Homo sapiens: one gene and its partners. The protein of the gene in region 7 purifies or fractionates together with the protein of the main gene of each other region. This does not show direct contact. Each region holds a gene or a part of one and is shown on either strand. Other genes may lie near its edges.

Region 1 (3,500 bases), on a different chromosome or scaffold from region 7:
GAAACAACCAGATCTCGTGAGAACTCACTATCACAAAAATAGCAAGGGGGTTTTCTGCCTCCATGATTCAGTCATCTCCTCCAACACCTGGGGATTACAATTCACAATGAGATTTGGGTGGGGACAAGAGCCAAACCATATCATTCCACCCCGGTCCCTCCCTAATTTCATGTCCTTTTTACATTTCAAAACCAATCATGCCTTCCCAACAGTCCCCCATAACTCATTCCAGCATTAACTCAAAAGTCCAAGTCCAAAGTCTCATATGAGACAAAGTAAATCCCTTCTGCCTGTGATCCTATAAAATAAAAAACAAGTTAGTTACCTCCAAGATACAACGGGGGTACAGACATTGGGTAAATGCTCCCATTCCAAATGGAAGAAATTGGCCAAAACAAAGGGGCTACAGGCCCTGGGCAAGTGCAAAGCCCAGCAGGGCAGTCTTTAAATCTTAAAGCTCCAAAATAATCTCCTTTGACTCCATGTTTCACATCCAGGGCATGCTGATACAACAGGTAGGCTCCCAGGGCCATGGCTGGCTTCGCCCCTATGGCTTTGCCAGGTACAGCCCCCATGGCTGCTTTCATGGGCTAGAGTTGAGTGCCTGTGGCTTTTCCAGGTGCATGGTGCAAGCTGTTGGTAGATCTACTGTTCTGGGGTCTGGAGGATGGTGGCCCTCTTCTCATGGCTCCACTAGGCAGTATCCCAGTGGGGACTCTATGTGGGGGCTCCAACCTCACATTTCCCTTCCGCACTGCCCTAGTAGAGGTTCTTCATAAGAGCTCTGCCCCTGCAGCAGATTTCTGCCTAGATATCCAGGCATTTCTATATGTCTTCTGAAATCTAGGTGGTTTGAGAATCAGAGGTTACCAAACCTCAGTTCTTGCCTCTACCCCACAGGCCCCGTGTCACATGGAAGCCACCAAGAGTTGGGGCTTGCACGCTCTAAAGCCATGGCCCAAGCTGTACCTTGGCTCCTTTTCGCCATGGCTGGAGCTGCAGCACCTGGGATGCAGGGTGTCCCAAGACTGCACAGAGCAGCAGGGCCCTGGGCCCAGCTCACAAAACCATTTTTCCCTCCTAGGCCTCTGGGCCTGTGAATTAACATTTGGCTCCTTGTTACTTATTCAGATTTCTGCAGCCAGCTTGAATTTCTCCCCAGAAAATGGGGTTTTCTTTTCTACTGCATGGTCAGGCTGCAAGTTTTCCAAACTTTATGCTCTGCTCCCTTTTAAATATAAATTCTAATTTCAGACCATCTCTTTCTTCATGCATATGAGCATACGCTTTTAGAAACCGCCAGAAGGCCTCTTTTTTTTTTTTTTTTTTTTTTTTTTTTTTTTTCTGAGATGGAGTCTCTCTCTGTTGCCCAGGCTGGAATGCAGTGGCATGATCTCAGCTCACTGCAACCTCTGCCTCCCAGGTTCAACTGATTGTCCTGCCTCAGCCTCCCAAGTAGCTGGGACTATAGGTGTGTGCCACCACGCCCAGCTAATTTTTGTATTTTTAGTAGAGACAGGGTTTCACCCTGTTGGCCAGGCTGGTCTCCAACTCCTGACTTCGTGATCCGCTTGTCTCAGCCTCCCAAAGTGCTGGTGTTACAGGCATGAGCCACTGTGCCCAGCCCAGGCCACCACTTGAATGCTTTGCTGCTTAGAAATTTCTTCCACCAGATATCCTAAATCATCTCTCTCAAGTTCAAGTTCCACAGATCTCTAGGGCAGGGGCAAAATGCCGCCAGTCTCTTTGCTAAAGCATACCAAGTATGACCTTTACTCCAGTTCCGAATAAGTTCCTCACCTCCATCTGAGACCTCCTCAGCCTGGACTTCATTGTCCATATCACTGTTAGCATTTTGGTCAAAACCAGTCAACAAGTCTTTAGGAAGTTCCAGACTTTCCCATATCTTCCTGTCTTTTTCTAAGCCCTCCAAATTGTTCCAACCTCTGTCTATTACCCAGTTCCAAAGTCGCTTCCACATTTTCAGGTATCTTTTTTTTTGAGATGGAGTCTTATTCTGTCATCCATGCTGGTGGGCAGTGGCACAATCTCAGCTCACTGCATCCTCTGCCTCCAGGGTTCAAGCAATTCTCCTGCCTCAGCCACCAGAGCAGCTGGGATTATAGGTGTGCACCACCACCCCCAGCTAATTTTTGTATTTTTAATAGAGAATAGGTTTCATCATGTTGGCCAGGCTGATCTTGAACTCCTGACCTCAAGTGATCCACCCTCCTCAGCCACCCAAAGTGCTGGGATTACAGGCGTGAGCCACTGCGCCCTGCCATTTTCAGGTATCTTTATAGCAGTACCACATTCCTGTTACCAATTTTCTGTATAGTTCGTTTTCACACTGCTCTAAAGAACTACCTGAGACTGTAATTTATGAAGAAAAGAGGTATAATTGACTTAAAATTCCACATAGCTGGGGAGGCCTCAGGAAACTTGTGGCGGAAGGTGAATGGGAAACAAGGCATGTGTTACATGGCAGCAGGAGAGAGAGAGCAAGGGGGGAAGTGCCACCCTTTGGAACAACCAGATCTCGTGAGAACTCACTATCACAAGAACAGCAAGGGCGAAATCCACCCCCATGATCCAGTCACCTCTCACCAGGTCCCTCCCCTGACATGTGGGGATTACAATTTGATTTGCGATTTGGGTGGGGACACAGAGCCAGACCATATCATCACTGTACACATCATGTTCTTTTTCAAAAGTTCTTAGGAAACAAAGGCAATTAATTTTGGTGTTATTTTTTTTTGTTTTTTTGGTTTTTTTTGAGACGGAGTTTCGCTCTTGTTGCCCAGGCTGGAGTGCAGTGGTGCGATCTCGGCTCACCACAACCTCTGCCTCCCAGGTTCAAGTGATTCTCCTGCCTCAGCCTCCCAAGTAGCTAAGATTATAGACATGCGCCACCACACCCGGCTAATTTTGTATTTTTAGCAGAGACGGGGTTTCTCCATGTTGGTCAGGCTGGTCTTGAACTCCGGCCTTGGGTGATCTGCCTGCCTCAGCCTCCCAAAGTGTTGGGATTACAGGCGTGAGCCACCATGCCCGGGCAGCAATGTTTTATAAGTTTTTTAATTACTGCTGTTTTTAGATGTTTTGACTTAGCAGTATTTATTGATATACGTTCAAAATTTTACTTTTGCTTTAGCAAAAGAAAGTGAAGACAAGGAAAACCTTCCCAAAAGGACATCTCCTGGTGGCTTCAAATTTACTTTCTCCCACTCTGCCAGTGCTGCTAATGGAACAAACAGTAAATCTGTAGTGGCTCAGATACCACCAGCAACTTCTAATGGATCCTCTTCCAAAACCACAAACTTGCCTACGTCAGTAACAGCCACCAAGGTAGGTGAAACAGCATTACACACAAACTTTGCTTTTCCCGTCTGTGAGATTTTTTCATGTTTACTGAAAAAAATTTGGATAATCAAAACAATTTCAATGAATTGTTTAGAATTTTTCTGTTACCAAAATGTTGATTGTAGAATTTTATTTTA
Region 2 (3,500 bases), on a different chromosome or scaffold from region 7:
ATCATATTTAGTATCCCTACCCTTCCTGAAATAGTATATTCCTTATTCAACTCAAATTAAGAAAACTTAAGTTTATGCCTACACAACACTGCTATTCAGTCACATCCCATAAAGCAATAGAGTCTTTAAACCGTATGCCATCACACCTTCCAAGCAAATAATCATTTTGTCAAGAAATAAGAATAAATCTAGAGTAAGAAAGCCTTAATTTTCTCTTGCCCATTTTTTTCCAACATACATTTCTTCCTTTCCATGAATTTACTTATTGGATCCATAATATCATCATCATTTTTAGTTTTGTCAGATGGAGACACTACAGCTTCTCCATCTTCCATGTCATCTTCATCTGTGTTAAACCACATCTCTTCTTCATCTTCTAGTGTTCTGGCATCTCTTCGATATCTGTGATTCCTCAAAATGGAACGCATACTATGAGTAGGGAAGAAAGAGTAAATACAATCATATATGGACTTAATTGTACTGTTACAGATGACTTATTAAACTTGTTAACATAGGGAATTAACATGAAATTTACAAATATTAAAGTATCAATGTAAATCCAGGTATTTAGATTAATGTACAAAATTTTAAATAATAATTTGTAACCTTAGTAACTTGTAAATTCAAAGCAAGTAATATAATCCTCTGATTTTATTTGGAACACATGAAGCCTCACTTCCACTGTTTGGTCTTTTTTTTTTTTTTTCCCTTATCTAGCCTGATACATGCCTGAGGTATTATACTAATAACCAGCCTAATCTTCAGGGAAACATTTATGTTGACCCTTACAGGAAGCTACAATTTCTATTTGCTATCTGCTGATTTCCCTGTTCCTTGTCAAGCCAAATAATATCAAATAAACAATAAAGCCACTACCATACGACTTGATGCTGAACGAATAGGTTTAAATATATGGTAATTTACCTGTCAAGTTTGGGATTATCTTGCCTTTCTCTTTGTTGTTCAAATCTCAGTTTTAATCCTTTAAATGTCTGTACATAATCTACATCTTCCAGTGCTTTCCAGTAATTTTCAATTACATGAGCAGTTAATGATTTTATATCTTCCTACAGAAAAGAATAGTAATGAAAAAATGATAGGAAAATGTCATTTTAGCAAGATGAGGCTTAATTTAATCAATTCATACCCACCAAAAATAGCTTAATTTAATAAAACTACATAATCTTAGAGATAACCAAACAATAAAAAATGGGAATAACGTACACTGGCTACTATAGTAGTCCCCAATTTATCTATGGGTCTTTTTTTTTTGAGATGGAGTTTTGCTCTTACTGCCCAGGCTGGAGTGCAATGGCATGATCTCGGCTCACTGCAACCTCTGCCTCCTGGATTTAAGCGATTCTCCTGGCTCAGCCTCCAGAGTAGCTGGGATTACATGCATGCACCACCACGCCTGGCTAATTTTGTATTTTTAGTAGAGATGGGGTGTCTCCGTGTTGGTCAGGCTGGTCTCGAACTCCCGACCTCAGGTGATCTGCCTGCCTCGGCCTCCCAAAGTGCTGGGATTACAGGTGCGAGCCACTGCACCCAGCTATCTATGGGTCTTTACAAAGTAAATGCCCAGGTCTTGCCCTAGGTGATTCTGATTCTGATGTGCGGGCTGGGTATGTGTATTTTTTAGAGATGGGGTCTCGTTCTGGCACCTAGGTTGAGATATAGTGGTATGATTATAGCTCACTGCAGGCTTGAACTCCTGGGCTCAAGCAATCCTCCCACCTCAGCCTCCTGAGCAGCTAGGACTATCGGCATGCACCACCATACGGGGCTAAGTTTTAACAAAAAATTTTTGTAGAGATGGGGTCTTGATATGTTGCCCAAGCTAGTCTCTAACTCCTGGCCTAAAGCAATCCTCCCACTTTGGCCTGCCAAAGTGCTGGGATTACAGGCATAAGCCACTATCCCTGGCCATGGACATATATGTTTTATTAATTAATTTTTATTTTAGGTTCAGGGGGTCCATGTGCGTATTTGTTATACGGGTAAACTGCGTGTCACAGGGGTTTGGTGTATAGCTTATTTCATCACCCAGGTAGTAAGCACAGTACCCAATAGGTAGTTTTTCAATCCCCACCTTCTCCTACTCTCTACCCTCAAGTGGCTCTGGTATCTGTTGTTGTTCCCTTCTTTATTTCCATGTGTACTCAAAGTTTAGTTCCCACTTACAAGAGAGAACACACAACAGCCATGCGTATTTTAAAAGCATGTCACAGGCCGGGTGAAGAGGCTCATGCCTGTAATCCCAGCAGTTTGGGAGGCCAAGGTGGGCAGATCACCTGAGGTCAGGAGGTTGAGACCTGCCTGGCCAATAGTGAGACCCTATCTCTACTACAAATACAAAAATTAGTCGGGTATGGTGGCGCATGTCTGTAATCCCAGCTACTCTAGAGGCTGAGGCAGAAGAATCGCATGAACCTGGGAGGTGGAAGGCGCAGTGAGTCGAGATCATGCCACCGCACTTCAGCCTGGGTGACAGAGTGAGACTCTGTCCCCACCCCCCTCCCTCACCCCCCAAAAAAAGCATGTTACAGAAAAGTTCTGGAGATGAATAATGGTGATGGCTGCCAACAATGTGAATGTTTACTTTAAAATGGTTAAAATAGCAAGTTTAATGTTTTATATTATTTTATCCCAGCTTTTAAAAAAGCACGACATCCAGGTACTGTGGTATGCACCTCCAGTCTCAATTACTTGTGAGGCTAAGGTGGGAGGATCGTTTGAGCCCAGCTGGGCAACATAGCAAAACCCTGTCTCTAAGAAACAAACAAAACAAAAAGCCATGCCAGATAAATTTGCACAGCATCAATGAGAACCACTAGCTTATTACATTACTAGAGAATAAAGAGTATTATGAAATTGGTCTTTAGAAATGTGTAAGTTAAGAAAAACACATTCAAATGCTTATCTGTCAAGTGTAGTTTTGCTTTCTTAAAATGATTACTGTGACCATCCTACAAAGCAGCAGTCCCTAACCTTTTTGGTTTCATGAAAGACAATTTTTCCACCAACTGGGGTGGGAGTGGGGGAGCACAGTTTCAGGATGAAATTGTTCCACCTCACAGTTAACCAAAGGGTTCATGCTCCTAGGAGAATATAATGCTGCTGCTGATCTGATAGGAGGTAGAGCTCAGGCAGTAATAATGCCTGCTTGCCAGCAGCTTACCTCCTGCTGTGCAGCCTGGTTCCTAACAGGCTATGGACCGGTCCGCGGCCAAGGGGTTGAGGACCCCTGCTATAACAGATTTGTAGCTGCTGAGAGGTAAGATGTAGCTTGACTCAAATCTCTCACAGGCTTTTAGTACTTTTTTTTTTTTTTAAATCTCTCCAAATATTATCATCTCAAGCCAAAATACTAGGTAATGCATATTCAATTTTCTCAAACAATTAAAATGAAAATTCTAATTAAAAATACAGAACCTACCACTCTAATAAATTCAAACATCTCTATTATGGCAGAGTTCATCAGATTGTAGCGGGATCCA
Region 3 (3,500 bases), on a different chromosome or scaffold from region 7:
ATTGATACCAAAAGGCTGAATAAAATGAAGACTTGTAGGTAAGTATGATGTGAACATGAGTCTATTTTTTTGAAACTTCTCTAAAATAACAGTAAAAGCATAAAACAGTGTAATACCTTAAGGATGTGGGATAGAGGAGATGACAGAAGACAGATGGTTTCAATAAAGTGTTGGAAAGTGGAAAGCAGATGGGTAAAGGTGGATTTTCTCTGTTTAAGCTAGGGGGGTCTCTCCCAACATCCTGGGAAGGTCCCCAATGGTATCTTCACATGGTGATAGGTTTTTGTGAAATTTGCAAGATATTTTGATAATTTGTAGTTGTTTATTTTCTTTCAACTCTGACTTGTTTTCTGTTAGGTGGTGCTGGAATAGCTGTGGGCATTTTGAAATCAGGCTAAGACAAAGATGAGCTGGGGATGTGCTTAGTATGGGTTTAGTGGTATATATGTGATTTGCAATTATTTCTGTGTATAGTTAAGTACTTGTTAGCCATCCCAGTATAACTTAAGATTTTTAGTATCTTATTTGTTATTCTGGTTCTTGAAGGAGTCCTTCAAATTGTAAAACTTGGATCTGTCCCTGGTAACTGACATAGCAGAATGGAGGAATTCACAACCTTGGGGTGGGGTGGGAAGGAAGCCAATAAAAAGCAAGCTGATTTGTGCTGTAGACTTCTGGGGAGGCTCAGGAATTTGAAGCATTGGGTTCTTTTTGGGACATTGGTCTCTGGGTTAGCCTAAAACAGGGATTAGTTAAAAATCTGAGAAGCAGATCCTTTTCCTTAGCACAGGAGCAAACTGTGCTCTCCTTCCCCATCAGAACACTGTGGATGTATTCTCTAGAGGGGCTAAACGAGAGGTTCTGGGCTTGAGCCTACTAATACCAGGCATAGTTGAGGGTGGAGGTAAGACTCTACATTAAGAACAGGATTAAGTAAAATTCTCTATGCTGAATGGTGATTCCCTCTTCCTACCACTTCCTCTGTTTAACTGCCAGAATGCCAATAGGCAGGAGAGTAGATATGTCTTCTCTGGGTAGTTGACCAGGTACAGGAAAGACCTACAAATTCACTGGCTTTTCCACAATGAAATAGCCAGCTGCCTTGTCATCTTACGGTGAAGGCCTCCAGTAGCTAAGTTTTATTAGCAAATAGAGATCTTAGTTTTTAGTTTCTTGTCATTAAATAAAAAGCCAAGGATTGTTAAATGTATGTTCATAAATATTAGTTTTACAAGACACTAGGGTGTGATTCCAACAGCTTTGACTCCGTTTAGGAGCCGGTGCTTTTGACTTCTTTGGGGCTAAGCTTCTTGCTGTGGCTTCTGCTTGTTGCTCTGGTGAAGCACTGAAGAGAGGGAAAACAATCAGCATAAATTTTTTTTTTTTTTTTGAGACAGAGTCTTGTTCTGTTGCCCAGGGCAGAATGCAGTGGCACAACCTCGGCTCACTGCAACCTCTGCCTCCCAGGTTTAAGCAATTCTCTTGCCTCAGCCTCTGAGTAGCTGGGATTGCAGACATGTGCCACTACGCCCCACTAATTTTTGTGTTTTTAGTAGAGATGTGGTTTTGCCATTTTGGCCAGGCTGGTCTCACACTGCTGACCTCAAGTGATCCACCCAACTTGGCCTCCCAAAGTGCTGGTATTACAGGTGTGAGCCACCGTGCCGGCCCTAATCAGCATAATTTGTGATGTCATGGCCCTAGATCTAAATGCCAGGAGATTCTCACAGAAACAAAATTTAATGAGTGCCTGTATCTGAATTCTGTTACTCAGGATTTATTGATAGTTCTTTTTCTTTTCTTATTTTTTTTTTGGGGATGGAGTCTCTCTCTGTCACCCAGGCTGGAGTGCAGTGGCACAATCTCTGCTCACTGCAAGCTCCGCCTCCCGGGTTCACACCATTCTCCTGCCTCGGCTTCCCAAGTAGCTGGGACTACAGGCACCCGTCACCACACCCAGCTAATTTTTTGTATTTTTAGTAGTGATGGGATTTCACCATGTTAGCCAGGATGGTCTTGATCTCCTGACCTCGTGATCCACCTGTCTCGGCCTCCCAAAGTGCTGGGATTATAGGCATGAGCCACCGGGCCCGGCCAATAATTCTTGAATATTGATAGTTTATTGAAATTTGTAGGCAGATTTAGGGGAGATCAAAGGACTGCTCTTCAGACTGGGAAAGAAATAGCTTTTCTTTCTGTATTTTGACTTGTTATTTTTGATTAAAAAACATGTTATACCAATTTAAAACGCTTCTCCCCTTTCCTCCAGTGATAAATGCTGCTCATTCTTTCTACAATGGAACAACAACCCTACCAATATCAGATGAAGATAGAACCCCACGGAAAAGAATTAGCAAAACGTTAAATATGACCACAAGTCCTGAAGAGAAAAGAAAAATCATTGGGGATACTTTTGTTAAGGTACCTTTGTTTTTAATATCCTCAACATGTACTATTTTTGATGTGAATCTTAGTATTTGTTTTTCCTTGTCACTATATCAAATAACCAAATTAGCTAATTTTAATCCTTTTTCTTATGTGGCTGAGAGTTTTATTGTATATTGTCATTATATTGACCAGTAGAAACTGTTTTATGTTTTTTTGTTGTTGTTTGGTTTTTTTTTTGTTTTTTTGAGACAGAGTCTTGCTGTGTCACCAGGCTGGGCTGGAGTGCAGTTGCACGATCTCGGCTCGCTGCAACCTCTGCCTTCTGGGTTCAAGTGATTCTCCTGCCTCAGCCTCCTAAGTAGCTGGGACTACAGGGGTGCACCATCATGCCCAGCTAATTTTTGTACTTTTAGTAGAGACGGGGGTTTCACCATGTTGGCCAGGTTGGTCCGGATCTCCTGACCTCATGATCCGCCCGCCTCAGCCTCCCGAACTTCTGGGATTACAGGTGTGAGCCACTATGCCCAGCCAACTGTTTTATGTTTTAATAAACATGTTTGCCTACATTGCCAGGCTATTATTTTAAGAATAGATGTCTTTAAGAGTAGATGTATTCAGCTTATCATAGACTTTAATTCATTGATTATCTCAATGGCTAATTTCAAGCTCTTGAATGGAATGTTCACATACCTTTGTTTTTGTTTTTTTTTTTTTTTGGAGGCGGAGTTTTGTTCTTGTCACTCAGGCTGGAGTACAATGGAGCGATCTTGGCTCACGGCAACTTTCACCTGCTGGGTTCAAGCGATTCTCCTGCCTCAGCCTCCCGAGTAGCTGGGATTACAGGCATGCACCACCATGCCCAGCTAATTTTTTTCTTTTTTTGAGATGGAGTCTCACTCTGCCGCCCAGGCTGGAGTGTAGTGGTGCAATCTTGGCTCACTGCAAACTTTGCCTCCAGGGTTCAAGCGATTCTCCTGCCTCAACTTCCTGAGTAGCTGGGATTACAGGCGTGTGCCACCATGCCCGGCTAGTTTTTGTATTTTTAGTAGAGACGGGGTTTCACCATGTTAGTCAGGCTGGTCTCAAACTCCTGACCTTGTGATCTGCCTGCC
Region 4 (3,500 bases), on a different chromosome or scaffold from region 7:
TCTCTCAGACTCACTGTCCTTCATTGCCTAATACCTAGTGCCTTAAAAACTATTGTTTAAGGCCAGGTGCGGTGACTCACGCCTGTAATCCCAGCACTTTGGGAGACCGAAGCAGGTGGATCACTTGAGGTCAGGAGTTCGAGACCAACCTGGCCAATATGGCAAAACTCCGTCTCTACTAAAAATACAAAAAATTAGTTGGGCGTGGTGGTGAGTGCCTGTAATCCTAGCTATTCAGGAGGCTGAGGCAGGAGAATCACTTGAACCCAGGAGGCGGAGGTTGCAGTGAGCTGAGATCACACCACTGCACTCCAGCCTAGGCAACACAGTGAGACTCCATCTCAAAAAAACAACAACAAAAACAACAAAAAACTATTGTTTCATATGTTTTGTGGGAGTGTTTTCTGGTTGTTTCAGGTGGGGTGGTACATCAGTCCCTGTTACTTGTTGTCAATGAAAAGAGTCAAACTTATGGCCAGGCATGGTGGCTCACGCCTGTAATCCCAGCACTTTGGGAGGCCGAGGCAGGTGGATCACCTGAGGTCAGAAGTTTGAGACCAGCCTGGCCAACATGGTGAAACCCCGTCTCTACTAAAAATACAAAAATTAGCCAAACATGGTGGTGCACACCTGTAATCCCAGTTACTCGGGAGGCTGAGGCAGGAGAATCACTTGAGCATGGGAGGAGGAGGTTGCAGTGAGCCGAGATCACGCCACTACACTCCAGCCTGGGCGACTCTGCCAGAGTCTCAGCCAGTGTGAGACTCTGTCCCCCTGCCACCAAAAAACAAAAATAAAAGAAAGAAAGAAAAAAGAAGAGAGTCCAACTCTAAAATATTTGAAGAGCTTTATTCTGAGCCAAATATTCAATTCAGTGAGACTACCTGTTTTTGCCTACAGTTTCCCTCCCTGCACTACAGCCTCGAAGCTCCCTTAAGCAGTAAGCTGTAGGAATTGTAGGGCTTACCTTATTGTTCCCCCATCTCTCAGACTCAATGACCAATGGCCCATGACACAACCCTCAGGACATCCTGAGAACCTGTGCTCAAGGTGATCAGGCTACAACTTGGTTTTATACATTTTAGTAAGACATAAGACATTAATCAATACATTTAAGATGTACATTGGTTTGGTTTGGAAAGGAGGGACAACTGGAAGGGGTGGGGGTGGTTGGGAGGGGTTGGGGGTAGCTTCCAGGTCATAGGTAGATTCAGAGGTTTTCTGATTGGCAGTTGGTTGAAAGAATTAAGTTATTGTGTAAAGACTTAGAATCAATAGAAAGGAATGTCTGGGCTTATGATAAGGGTTTGTGGAAACCAAGATTTTATCATGCAGATGAGGCTTCCAGGTAGCAGGCGACAGAGGAGATTGCAAATGTTTCTTATCAGACTTAAAGAGTCAGTTCAACAAAGTTTGTGTTGATGTTAATGCTGGTCAGCTAGGCCTGAATTCCAAAAGGGAGGAGGGTATAATGAGGCATGCCTGGTTCCCCTTTCCCTTCGTGGCCGAACTAGTTTTTCAGATTAACTTTGGAATGCCCTTGGCCAAAAGGAGGGATCCATTTGGACGGTCTAGGAGGCTTAGAATTTTATTTTTGGTTTACATAATGTCTAAAAATTAATACGTTCTTTTTCTCCTTGCTAAAAGGTAAGTTGTTTCATGTTTGCCAGCCATTTATACCTTATTAGAGATGAATTTATGAGCTAAGTGACCGAGAGTAGGTTAGATTGGGAGAGGGCATATACTAAACTGTTTATCCAAGGTGGTGTGAAAAGGAAAGTAAAAGTGTAGGACTCTAACATAATCACTTACACCACTGATTTGTCTAGGGCAGATTATCTCTGGATAATCTTAGAATTCACCAAGAAGCAGAGACAGAAGTGACTCCCTGTGTTGTGGTGCTTGCTAATGGAGTGCGGCCTTTTTCATGTTTTCCTTCCCTAGGACCAGTGTACCATGAGTACTGTGAGTGTCCGGAAGATCCTCAGGCCTGGCAGAAGACTCTTTCTTGTCCAACCAAGGAACCACAGATTGCAAAAGATTTTGCTTCCTTTCCCAGCATCAATCTCCAGCAAATGCTAAAAGAAGTCCCCAAAAGGTTTGGGGATGAGAGAGGTGCCATTGTTCATTACACGATTCTCAATAACCATGTTTACCGGAGATCTTTAGGGAAATACACAGACTTCAAGATGTTCTCTGATGAGATTTTGTTATCATTGACAAGAAAGGTAGGAGAATGAATGAATTGATAATACAGTTTAATTATTTAGGTATAACATTTAAATGTTTAGAATTATAATGACAAAGGATGAAACAGATTTCAGGCTGAGAAATGGGCATCTAAGATATTTGCAACCTGAGTGTTCATCATGTTCTCCATCTTTGTGGATCTTACTTTCCTGTAAGATTTAAAATTAAGTGGCTTGAGGCCAGGCATGGTGGCTCATACCTGCAATCACAGCACTTTGGGAGGCTGAGGCGGGTGGATCATCTGAGGTCAGCAGTTCAAGGCCAGCCTGGCCAACATGGCAAAACCCCATCTCTACTAAAAATACAAAAATTAGCTGGGCGTGGTGGTGGGCGCCTGTAATCACAGCTACTCAGGAGGCTGAGGTAGGAGAATCCCTTGAACCCAGGAGGTGGAGGCTGCAGTGGGCCAAGATTGCGCCACTGCACTCCAACCTGGGTGACAGAGTGAGACTCCATCTCAAATAAATAAATAAATAAATAAATAAATAAATAAATAAAATAGAATAAAGTGGCTGAGCCCCCATCCCAGGTAGGTATGCCATACAGGACACTCCCAAGCTTTCTTTGAGCTTCCAGAGATTTATAACAAGGTTACTTCTTATTCTTTTTTTCAAATAGTCTATATTTACAATATCCAAACAGAACAGTCTCATTTATTTATTTATTTTTAAATAGGGATGGGGTCTTGCTGTGTTGAGCAGGCTGGTCTCAAATTCTTGGGCTCAAGCCATCCTCCTGCCTCAGCCTTGATCCTAGCTGGGACTATAGGCATGCACAACCATGTCAAGAGGCCGCTTTAAGTTCTCTGTTCCGCTGAATACTACTCCTGCTTAGATTTCACCTTCTGCAGCTGTTTTCTTCTCTTCACCTCAAAATGACTTGAACTTAGAACACATTTTCCTTGTTTTACCCTAAGCATACCTAGAAGATAGCGTGCATGGGACATTTTGTCAAAGCTTGGGCTACCAGAAACAGGTTGTTTTTTTTTTCACCAGTGCATACTAAAAAACAAACAAACAAAAACCCTGATATTTAAAAATAGACATCTCTGCACTAATCAGACTCTCAGTCATACTTGCCTCTGGGAATTTCTCAGGGCTGTCCTTGACCTTAAGTTCTTAGCCTCTCACTAATGTGGTTAGGCCCTCTGTTTTTCAGGCTCCCCACATCCCCCAATAGCGCCCCCTTATCTCACTATTCAGCCTCTCTTTCCACATTTGCAGAACTCTAAATTCCTCTTAAGCAGAGCA
Region 5 (3,147 bases), on a different chromosome or scaffold from region 7:
ATAAAGACTGAGTCATTTCCTTAAAACAGTGTTCTTTAACCTCCTCTTCTTCACATACAGCATATCTAATTCTTTATCACAACAGGTTTTATGGAGGTACACAGAATGTAGGATACTGATAATAGTTATGTCTTTATTTTCTTTGGAAAATGAAATGAGTTAATATTTATCAAAAAAAGTCAGTCAGATAGTAAATATCGTATTCCTGTGAGCTGTTATTATTATCATTGATGTACAAGACTAAAAATTAGGTAAGTATTCTCACAGGACAACAGGTAACTTTGACATTATGTTTCTTTCAATATTGTAGTGTATACTTTATCAAAAAAAGAATATAAGAATATTACCGATGAAGATAATAAGAATAAGAAAACGATTTTGAGCGTTTCATATAACAAATAGGACCAGGCGTGGTGGCTCTTGCATGTAACTCAGCACTTTGGGAGGCTGAGGCAGGAGAATTCCTTGAGGCCTGGAGTTTGGGACCATCCTGGACGATATAGCAAGACCCTGTCTCTAAAGAACAAAGCACAACAAGTCTAAAATAACTCAGAAATAGCTGAAAGCTAATTTTTATATAATATAAACTTATCGGTTAAAATGCTTTAAAGTCCTTATGCAAAATGTTTTTTTTTCCTAAATTTCTTCTAGGTAATTGATCTGGGTGGTGAGCCAATTAAAAGCAGTGACTACTTTGGTAATGGCCGGGTGACAGAATTCAAGTATGGTGCAAAACTCGGCACAGTTATTCGCAAGTGGAATGGAGAGAAGATGTCTTACTTAAAGTAAATAAATACAACTTTTCCCCTGAACTATTTCATAGATCTGTTAGTCATACTACCCCAGTGCGAGTTATCTTCTGGAACATTCTTATTCAGACAACTATTAAGGAGTCAGTTGTTAATGATAAGTATTCTAGTGCCCTAAACTCTAATCAATCATCTTTTGTATTTAGAGTGTCTGTCACAAGACAGTATGCCTAGGAACGCTAAACTTACCCTAGGAGTTTCTGTCTGCGTACAAGATGAATATACTGGATTTGACTGATGTTTGCATATAATCTTTTAAAGCCAGGTTATTATTAAAATGATCCTATCATTTATAAAGTATGTACAAAGTGTCCATGCTATTGTATTTACTTATACGAATTGGAAATGTAAAATGATTTATATTATAACAATACAATATTAAAGCCTTATTTTAATCTAGTTTGACATTCTGTATAATGTGATGTGGATATTGATCCTTCTGGAGTGCCTCTAAATGATAATGTGCTGAAACCTCTGAAAGGAAATTTTTTAATAACAAACATTTTATATTTGTAATATGAATATAAGTATTCCATACATGTATATACAAATATGGACTATATATATGTAGATTACACACGTGTGTTTGTTTATGAGGTGTGTGTGTATATATATGTGAGTGTGTGTTTGTGTGTGTGTGTGTATATATATATATCTTACAGAGTAACCATCTAATTAGAGAAAGAATTTAATCTTCAGATGCCATGCCTTACAGAAAGAGATGCACAGTAGAGTTACTCTCAAACTATTGTGAAATGATACATCAACGTATATCTTATGTTTCAAAAATAGGAACTGGGGAGAAGGTTGGGGTTTCATGCCTTCTGACAGAGCGCTTGTCTTTGTGGATAACCATGACAATCAACGAGGACATGGCGCTGGAGGAGCCTCTATACTTACCTTCTGGGATGCTAGGTAGAAAACCAAGTTCTCTATTTTTTAACACCTCTTTTAATGATGGTATGAATATTGTGATATTCTATGATAATATAATTATGTAACTTTCAGGCTGTACAAAATGGCAGTTGGATTTATGCTTGCTCATCCTTATGGATTTACACGAGTAATGTCAAGCTACCGTTGGCCAAGATATTTTGAAAATGGAAAAGTAAGTTTTGGAGTTGTTCAAAATATCCTTTTCTCAAGAAAAAAGAGGCAATCTTCTCCTAATTTAATATGACAACTATTAAGTGTTTATTTATTCAACAAATATTTAATTATTGTAAACCTGATACAGGGTTGTGATTTAGTAATGCAGGTTATATTAAAGGAATAAACTTTATATTCTCCATTGAAAAAGAATAGCAAGCTTTTTCAGAGATATGACAAACATCCCCCTAGCCCGCAGGGAAAATAAAAATAAAAATTAAAAAAACCACTTAAAAATAAGAGCTAGGCACAGGGATTAAAATATATACTTCGTACCTTCCTCAGGTTTAATTGGAAGAATATAGATGCCAACCCTTGTAGAGAACTTAAAACATCATCTGCCCGTAGTGAGAACAATATAAATGTCTTTTAAATACTGTTAAAAAGTTATATGGTATAGAAACAAATGATCCAGTTCAGCTGAGTTAAATAGGGAAAGTATACTATAAGAGGAAGGAAATTGTATGTACTAAAGGATAGAAATTTATAGAGAGTATTCCAAGAAAGGTAAGAATGAGAAAAATATTTGGGAGTATGGTAAAGACATCACTCTGCTGAGTAGTTTCAAAAAGGAACAGAGAAATAAGAGTGTAAAGATATTTGGAAAGCTAGTAGAAGGTTTTCTTTTAAACTAAAGGGTTGAGAAACAGCATCAGAGACTTCAGAACTAAAGCAGAAATTCCTCCTTCCTATGAGTCACACAGATATCTAGCTAGCTTTTTTTAGATTCCTTTCAGTTTGAGAAGTCCGCTACTATGTATAACAACTGATTCTATTGTTAAACAGCTTTAATATTTAGAAGGTGTACTTTTATATTGAGACAACTTCTTATAATTTCTACTAATTGGTCTTATTTCTGTTGTTAGGAGTCAGAGAGTTCTTTTATTTTTTCTATTACTATAACATTCCCACTTTGACAGGACTGCTGCATGCTATAAACTCTTAAGTTTTGTTCACTTTTCACCATATGACGTGATTTTAAGGTGAACACTGATAAACTTCCTAGGGTTACTCTGTGTTTTTTAATGAAGATTTCTTAAAGTGCCAATCAGAAAAGCATAATACTAAAAATATGGTCAATTTATAAAAAAAAATGTTCAGATGTAGTATTTTGTACATTTATCTAAAAAGAAGCATGACGGCCTCCAATATTTATTTAGCATATGTCATGTTCAAGGCATTTTCACAT
Region 6 (3,500 bases), on a different chromosome or scaffold from region 7:
GATAAAGGAATTTTGTTTTAAACCTAAATTTCAGAAGAGTTCTGCATATTAATACTGAGTTGAGCAGCAAAGGTTCTAATTTTTTACTAAGCAAAGTTTAACTGAGATGTTTTAAGTCAATATTTCTCAGTTGGGGTGATTTTTGCATACCACAGCCATTTGGAACTGTCTGAAGACATTTATTTTAATTTATTGATTTACATGGGTTTATTTGTCTTCACAAGTGGGGGTTGTTAGTAGTATCTAGAGGTTAGGATGCTAAACATCTTATGATGTACAGGACAGTAAAGAATTATCCCACCCAAACTCCCAATAGTGCCAGAGTTGAGAAATTCTGCTTTACACCAGTGACCATTAATCAAAACAACTTTGAGAAGAAACTTGGATACTTTCCTAAGACTTTTCAGCTACAAAAAAACTTATGTGCTTACTTCTTCTTGGTAAGTGACATTTCAGAAATCAAGGTTTCCTAAATTCTATAAGAATCCACAAAGCATTCTTTTGATATAACTGCTTCTTACCAAAGCAGGCAATGTTCCCATCTAGTCCTATGTATTTTAGATCATATTTGGCAGCTTCATTTTCAATGGGCTCATTCTCTGATTTGTCGTCCATAGCAAATATGTCTTTTTGTCGGAATTCTGCGTTGTCATCAAAGTTTATCTTGGCATCAAAACAGACAACTAAATAAAGAAGAAAACAATCATACTTGAATATCTCTTGAGGATCTATAAATTAAGTTCTTCAGGCTGGTAGGCACAAGCGAAGGGAAAGTTAAGTACTGTCATTTTTTTTCACATGTTACAGGCAGGAGAGGCTGCTTTGGCTTTCTTGACCTTTAAATTTTAGGGTTTGGTCCCTGTTGTCAAGGGACTTACGTTCTAGTAAAGAACATAGTAATTTCTACCTGTTGTTCTCATTTCAATAGAATAACCCCAAAAGTTGCCATCAACCATTAAAAGTTACAGACTGGCACAGCTTCATAGATACAGCTTTGATTCATTATTTTTATTATATATTTTTAGTATTTAACCACTAATTATCACCTTTCTCTTCTATGTAAAGAGAGACTAGACAATATTATTAATTATTTTGTCCCCTATTGTCCTTTTCTTGATATGGTAAAGTGAAATTTTTATTGAATCAGTATCCTGTCTAGTATTTCCAAAAGATTTAGTGGAAAGAATGCCAGACTAGAATCGCTCGATTTTTATTTGATCCTTAACTAACTCTGTAACATTTATTAAAAATAAAAATTGTATACACTTGAGTCTTGAACAACATGGGTTTGAACTGTGAGGGTCCACTTATAGCTGGATTTTTATTCTCAAGATGTAAAGCCCCAGAGGGTCGACTTTTCACATACATGGGTTCTGCAAGGCCAACTGCAGGAATTGTGCAATATGAACGAAGTTTGGTATATCTGAGATTCCTGGAACCGATTCCCTGCATATATTGAGGGACAACTGTGTATTTAAAGCATACAACATCATGTTTTGATATACATATAACACAGTGAAATAATTAAACACAGTGAAATGATTACTACACTGAAGCAAATTAACACATCCATCTTCTCATATAGTTTTTGGTTTTTCTTTTTGGTGTGGGAGAGCACTTAAAATATATACTTTTAGCAATTTCCAGCATACATTACTAACTCTGTAACCTTGATAAAATAACCTAGTTCTTCTCTGGGCCTTGGTTTTTTAATTGGAAAAAATGGCAATAACAATCCTTAAAACAAGGGCCATGCCCTTGATTCGTGCAGGACCATCTTATGGTGCTTCAGATTCAAGTTATAAGACACGAAAAGACCAAGACTGGTCAGTCACAAAGCCAGGATGCCAGGCATTATTAGCACAATTGTCTCTAGTTTCTGGAGCTGGTGGAAATCTCCTGGACCCAGCAAAACTCATTCCATAATAGGAGACAGACTACAGGGCACTTTCCTTGATTTACAGATCTCCTATACATACAATCAGGGAGAGACTGCAGTGGAGAGGGTGGCATTATTGGTATCTGGGTATCTGACCCCTTTTATTATCTCTCTTAGTGTAGAAATTAGTGTTCTGTGATGCCATGTCATCATAATGTTTGTTTGTTTGTTTATTTATTTATTTATTTATTTATTTCGGAGACAGAGTCTCACTCTGCTGCCCAGGCTGGAGTGCAGTGGCGCAATCTCGGCTCACTATAACCTCCACCTCCCAGGTTCAAGCGATTCTCCTGCCTCAGTCTCCCAAGCAGCTGGGACTACAGGCATGTGCCACCATGCCCAGGTAATTTTTTGTATTTTTAGTACAGATGGGGTTTCACCGTGTTAGCCAGGATGGTCTCGATCTCCTGACCTTGTGATCTGCCCACCTCAGCCTCCCAAAGTGCTGGGATTACAGGTGTGAGCCACTGCACCTGGCCAATGTTCTTTTACTTAACTTGGGATATTGATAGCCAGGAATCTTTGAACAATAATTTACAGATACTACCTATTCTCCTCCAGCATTGCTGACAGGCACCTGACTCTTGAAAGGGAAACAGCCACAGAACATTTCTCACTCACTGAAAAGCAGTGGCTATAATCTCCTAATTATACTTGCTTCTTATGAAAATAAAACATGGCTGTATATGGCATCTTGGCGTTAGAGACCCCAGGTAGAGGGTTTTCTCCAAGGGTTTCCCTACCACAATATTCAAGCACTTTGATACAAATCTGTGTAGACCAGCATATTAACATCTAAGAATACTTGTTATAAGTATATATATAGACCGCACATGACTTAAAGTAGCACTGAGCGACAAGAGAGAATCTTATATGGAAGTTAATGTCTGCTTAAATCCTTAGTCTTGCCCCAAAATGCCCAACCACTTTGTCCACACATTGTGAATGGTTGGAGTGAATGAGTAATTACTTTCCAAAATATTGAAAGCTTATTGACAGAATCCTACAATTACCAAACGAATTGGCCAATGTTCTCTGCTTGCTACAGGGGAATTTTCTCAGCAGTTAATGACTGGTATAATAATCAATAAAAAAGCAACTTCGTACATGGCTTTCCACTAGGTTTATAAATGCATTCTAATTAATTTATTAGTAATTTTAGCTCCTCCATTACTCATTGGCAAGACTACTTATAACTGACACCTTCAAAATGAATGGGCTAAGGTTATCAAATTGACTTCCTAAGGGAAGAGTTTCAAATAAAGGAATTCTTGGTTGAGATCAATAAACAAGTAAATCAAAATAGTTTCAAGCTGACCTTTGCTCCTTACAAAGACTACAGTTACAAGCTGCTTCAGAGAGAGAATAATTAATGGGTATGTATTCAAAGTTCAAAAGGCAATCCCAACTAAATGCCTGCAAAGCTAGATTTTCAGAGGATGTTTTTCTGTGGTATGACGTTCTCTCCAGGGAACAATCTTGACAGAACTTTGCAGTTAACCCAGAGCTTCAAGATGGTGACTATGGGATAAAAGGGGTGTATATCTACAACGGTCCTGTG
Region 7 (3,500 bases):
ACACCAAGGAAATAGGTGTGCTATGTGAGCTTACTCTTAAATAATGGCTTTTAGTGAGTGTAGATAGTTCATGTGTAATGTACATCACATTATACCACCTAGGGTTTATTGTAAACTATATTGCTGCTAGATACATGTGAAAATATTTTCTTTCAATTTAGGTGTTTCCCATGATGAATTGCTTGACTTAGCAAAGTTTCATTTCGGTGACTCTTTATGCACACACAAAGGAGAAATACCAGCTCTGCCTCCCTGCAAATTCACAGGAAGTGAGGTAGGGCAAGCCTTCCAGCTAGTATTTAGCCTTTTGGATTCCTTGTGTTGTATTTACACATAAGTAAACAAAATGTGCATATTTCCAGTAGGAAAAGAATGGAATAATAGGAAAAGGGAAGAGGATGTACTCATTTGCTTACATTCCTTCCTCTTCCGTATTCTTTAACCACCTATTTTTCTTCCTAAGGAAGCAAGGTTTTTTTTGTTTTGTTTTTAAATTTCTCCATTCTAGTCTGAAAGGAAGCAAAGTTTTTAAGAGCAGTTTATAATTTGGTCTTTTTGTGCTTTTTCTTTGGCACTATGCCAATTTACATATTGTAATATCTGGAAGTAATCTTTTAAACCCCGTATTTTGACTTTCACTTCAGGTTTACTCTTGGCTCAGTTTTGCCCACAGTATGTTTTGGGAGGGGGTAGTAACTGTTAGAGCCAGAACTTGCAGGGGATCTACTAGTTATCAACTAGCTTTAAGCCCCACTAGCTGCTTAGTTTGCCATGTTGAGGATGATGCTCAAAGTAGTATCTGGAAAATGCCCTGATATTGGCAGCTGCCTAGAACTGTAGCATTGGCAGTACAAAAATAAACCTGTAACGTCAATATGACATTTCAATAGAAAAGTTCAGATTGAGGCCGGGTGCGGTGGCTTACGCCTGTAATCCCAGCACTTGGAGAGGCTGAGGCGAGTGTGTCACTTGAGGTTAGGAGTTTGAGACCAGCCTCACCAACATGGTGAAACTCCGTCTCTACTAAAAATACAAAAATTAGCTGGGCGTGGTGGTGCATGCCTGTAGTCCCAGCTACTCGGGAGGCTGAGGCAAAATTGCTTGAACATGGGAGGCCGAGGTTGCGGTGAGCCGAGATGGTGCCACTGCACTCCAGGCTGGGCGACAGAGTGAGACTCTGTCTCAAAAAAAAAGAAAGAAAAAGACAAATTCAGATTGACAAACACAAAGGATTGATTTCTACCAGTGAAATGATGCAACCCTTTTGACCAGGTAAACCATGTGGTGCCTGTCTGTAGTAAAATGCTTTGGGAAAAGTAATTTTTCCCTAATTTAGTCTTAATTCTTCTAGATTAAACTCAACAATGTAATGAGGCCTGATAGTTAAAAAATCAAAATAGAGTCCTGGTGTGCATTTTAACTTTGCAGTTAATGGGACTGGTGATTTTTTCCTTGTTAATAAGCATGTTATATAATGTTAATCTTAACTAGAGGTCCTCCTGCTTTATCTTAACTAGATTCGTGTGAGGGATGACAAGATGCCTTTGGCGCACCTTGCAATAGCTGTTGAAGCTGTTGGTTGGGCACATCCAGATACAATCTGTCTCATGGTTGCAAACACGCTGATTGGCAACTGGGATCGCTCTTTTGGGGGAGGAATGGTAAGTGATTTTAAAAGAAATTTTCCATAACAGATGGAAGATTATCATGTTTTCTTAAATATAAGTTCTTTGTAAGAATCCTTTTTTAAAGTGGCAGAATAGAGTCTTGTACTGTGAATTCTGACTTAAAAATATAAACTGATCCTGGATTGCATGTGGGCCAGAAAAAGTTTCTTTTTTTCTTTGCCACAAAGTTTATTAGTGGCAAAATTTGAATAAGGACAGAATTAGCTAGAAGTACTATGTCAATGTTAATATCCTAATTTTAATAGTCAGTAGGCCCTCTATATCTGTGGGTTCCATATCCGTGGATTCAACCAACCATAGGTGGAAAATTTTGGGGAACAAATGGATGGTTGCATCTGTACTAAACATGTATGGACTTTTTTTTTGGTCACTTCCTAAACAATATAGTATAACAACTATTTACATAGCATTTACATGGATTGGGTATTTATCTAGAGATGATTTAAAGTATACAGGAGAATGTGCTTATATGCAAATATTACATATACCATATTACATGAGGGCTCTAGCATCTGTGGATTTTGGTATCCACAGGGATCTGGGAACCAATTCTCCACAGATACTGAGGAACTATACCAAGGTGATGTAAGAACATTAATTTCCTTGTTTTTCACAAGTACATACTAAAGTATTTGGGGCAAGAAGCATCACATCTAAAACTCAGTTGAAAAAACTTGTATAAAGAGAATAAAGCAAACATGGTAAAATAACAGGGAATCTAGATAAATGAAATTCTCTGTACTGTTTTTGCAACTTTTTTGTAAGTTGGAATTATTTCAAAACACATTGTATAGATTTGTCTTTACTCATAGATTTCTCCAAAATACATTTCATCTAAATAATCTTAAGCTTCATATGCAATATAACTTTGAATCTTTAAGCGTATGTAGCCAAGAGTCCTAGAAATTGGGTTGATAATAGCCATCTAGTTTTAGAAGTAGGTATAGCTACTACATTAATTATAAGGACTCATTGCTTTTATAACATGAATTTCTCCAGGGGGTGCACTGGGTAAGTGAGATAATAAACACAATTCTTAGTCATACTGAATTTTAACTCTACTACTGAGATGTTGAATAAAACTAGGAAACAGCCTCTAAGGATATTCACTATTTTCCACACACTCCATTTTTCTTTCTGTATTTTGGACATGTATAATTAAAATTCTCTTGGAATTTTTTTTTCCTTGCAGAATTTATCTAGCAAGCTGGCCCAGCTCACTTGTCATGGCAATCTTTGCCATAGCTTTCAGTCTTTCAACACTTCCTACACAGATACAGGATTATGGGGACTGTATATGGTTTGTGAATCATCCACTGTTGCAGACATGCTACATGTTGTTCAAAAAGAATGGTGAGAAAAATAGCTTTAAGTAATTTAAATTTTGCCTTTAATTCGTTTTAAACTAGTTTTTTATTTATACTTTATGGTGATTTATGGTAATTTTACCTTTTAATTAAGAGACCTAGATAAACAGTAGTTGCCATGTTTTCAAAGGTTGCAGTTGGTTTTTCCTAAGTCTCAAGATGTGAAGCTGATTTATACTATAGAATTTTTTTTTTTTTTTTTTTTTGAGATGAGGTCTTGCTCTGTTGCCCAGGCTGGAGTGTAGTTGTGCCATCTCGGCTCACTGCAGCCTCCGCCTCCCAGGTTCAAGCCATTCTCCCACCTCAGCCTCCCGAATAGCTGGGATTACAGGCGCACCACCATGCCCACGATGCCTGGCTAATTTTTTGTATTTTTTAGTAGAGATGGGGTTTCACCATGTTGACCAGGCTAGTCCTGAACTCCTGACCTCAGGAGATCCACCCT

Evidence for each region.
Region 1: the proteins of PMPCB (region 7) and PPP4R3B purify together in Homo sapiens (affinity purification with mass spectrometry; 3 studies listed by BioGRID and IntAct, with this or other methods). This does not show direct contact.
Region 2: the proteins of PMPCB (region 7) and PPP4R3A purify together in Homo sapiens (affinity purification with mass spectrometry; 3 studies listed by BioGRID and IntAct, with this or other methods). This does not show direct contact.
Region 3: the proteins of PMPCB (region 7) and GMPS fractionate together in Homo sapiens (co-fractionation; one large-scale study listed by BioGRID). This does not show direct contact.
Region 4: the proteins of PMPCB (region 7) and POGLUT3 fractionate together in Homo sapiens (co-fractionation; one large-scale study listed by BioGRID). This does not show direct contact.
Region 5: the proteins of PMPCB (region 7) and AMY1C purify together in Homo sapiens (affinity purification with mass spectrometry, with the first as the bait; 3 studies listed by BioGRID). This does not show direct contact.
Region 6: the proteins of PMPCB (region 7) and SUCLG2 purify together in Homo sapiens (affinity purification with mass spectrometry; 2 studies listed by BioGRID, with this or other methods). This does not show direct contact.

What each region holds. Positions count from the first base shown.
Region 1 is NC_000002.12:55,558,623-55,562,122, reverse strand, and holds part of PPP4R3B (serine/threonine-protein phosphatase 4 regulatory subunit 3B), read left to right. Parts: intron 1-3,154; coding exon 3,155-3,348; intron 3,349-3,500. UniProt on the Homo sapiens protein: Regulatory subunit of serine/threonine-protein phosphatase 4 (PP4). May regulate the activity of PPP4C at centrosomal microtubule organizing centers.
Region 2 is NC_000014.9:91,461,811-91,465,310, forward strand, and holds part of PPP4R3A (serine/threonine-protein phosphatase 4 regulatory subunit 3A), read right to left. Parts: coding exon 3,440-3,500; intron 1,068-3,439; coding exon 925-1,067; intron 430-924; coding exon 239-429; intron 1-238. UniProt on the Homo sapiens protein: Regulatory subunit of serine/threonine-protein phosphatase 4. May regulate the activity of PPP4C at centrosomal microtubule organizing centers.
Region 3 is NC_000003.12:155,912,150-155,915,649, forward strand, and holds part of GMPS (GMP synthase [glutamine-hydrolyzing]), read left to right. Parts: intron 1-2,269; coding exon 2,270-2,421; intron 2,422-3,500. UniProt on the Homo sapiens protein: Catalyzes the conversion of xanthine monophosphate (XMP) to GMP in the presence of glutamine and ATP through an adenyl-XMP intermediate.
Region 4 is NC_000011.10:108,484,885-108,488,384, reverse strand, and holds part of POGLUT3 (protein O-glucosyltransferase 3 isoform 1 precursor), read left to right. Parts: intron 1-1,944; coding exon 1,945-2,228; intron 2,229-3,500. UniProt on the Homo sapiens protein: Protein glucosyltransferase that catalyzes the transfer of glucose from UDP-glucose to a serine residue within the consensus sequence peptide C-X-N-T-X-G-S-F-X-C. Can also catalyze the transfer of xylose from UDP-xylose but less efficiently.
Region 5 is NC_000001.11:103,752,898-103,756,044, forward strand, and holds part of AMY1C (alpha-amylase 1C precursor), read left to right. Parts: intron 1-651; coding exon 652-785; intron 786-1,601; coding exon 1,602-1,724; intron 1,725-1,817; coding exon 1,818-1,917; intron 1,918-3,147. UniProt on the Homo sapiens protein: Calcium-binding enzyme that initiates starch digestion in the oral cavity.
Region 6 is NC_000003.12:67,497,613-67,501,112, forward strand, and holds part of SUCLG2 (succinate--CoA ligase [GDP-forming] subunit beta, mitochondrial isoform 2 precursor), read right to left. Parts: intron 684-3,500; coding exon 522-683; intron 1-521. UniProt on the Homo sapiens protein: GTP-specific succinyl-CoA synthetase functions in the citric acid cycle (TCA), coupling the hydrolysis of succinyl-CoA to the synthesis of GTP and thus represents the only step of substrate-level phosphorylation in the TCA.
Region 7 is NC_000007.14:103,307,435-103,310,934, forward strand, and holds part of PMPCB (mitochondrial-processing peptidase subunit beta isoform 1 precursor), read left to right. Parts: intron 1-161; coding exon 162-274; intron 275-1,517; coding exon 1,518-1,661; intron 1,662-2,880; coding exon 2,881-3,041; intron 3,042-3,500. UniProt on the Homo sapiens protein: Catalytic subunit of the essential mitochondrial processing protease (MPP), which cleaves the mitochondrial sequence off newly imported precursors proteins. Preferentially, cleaves after an arginine at position P2.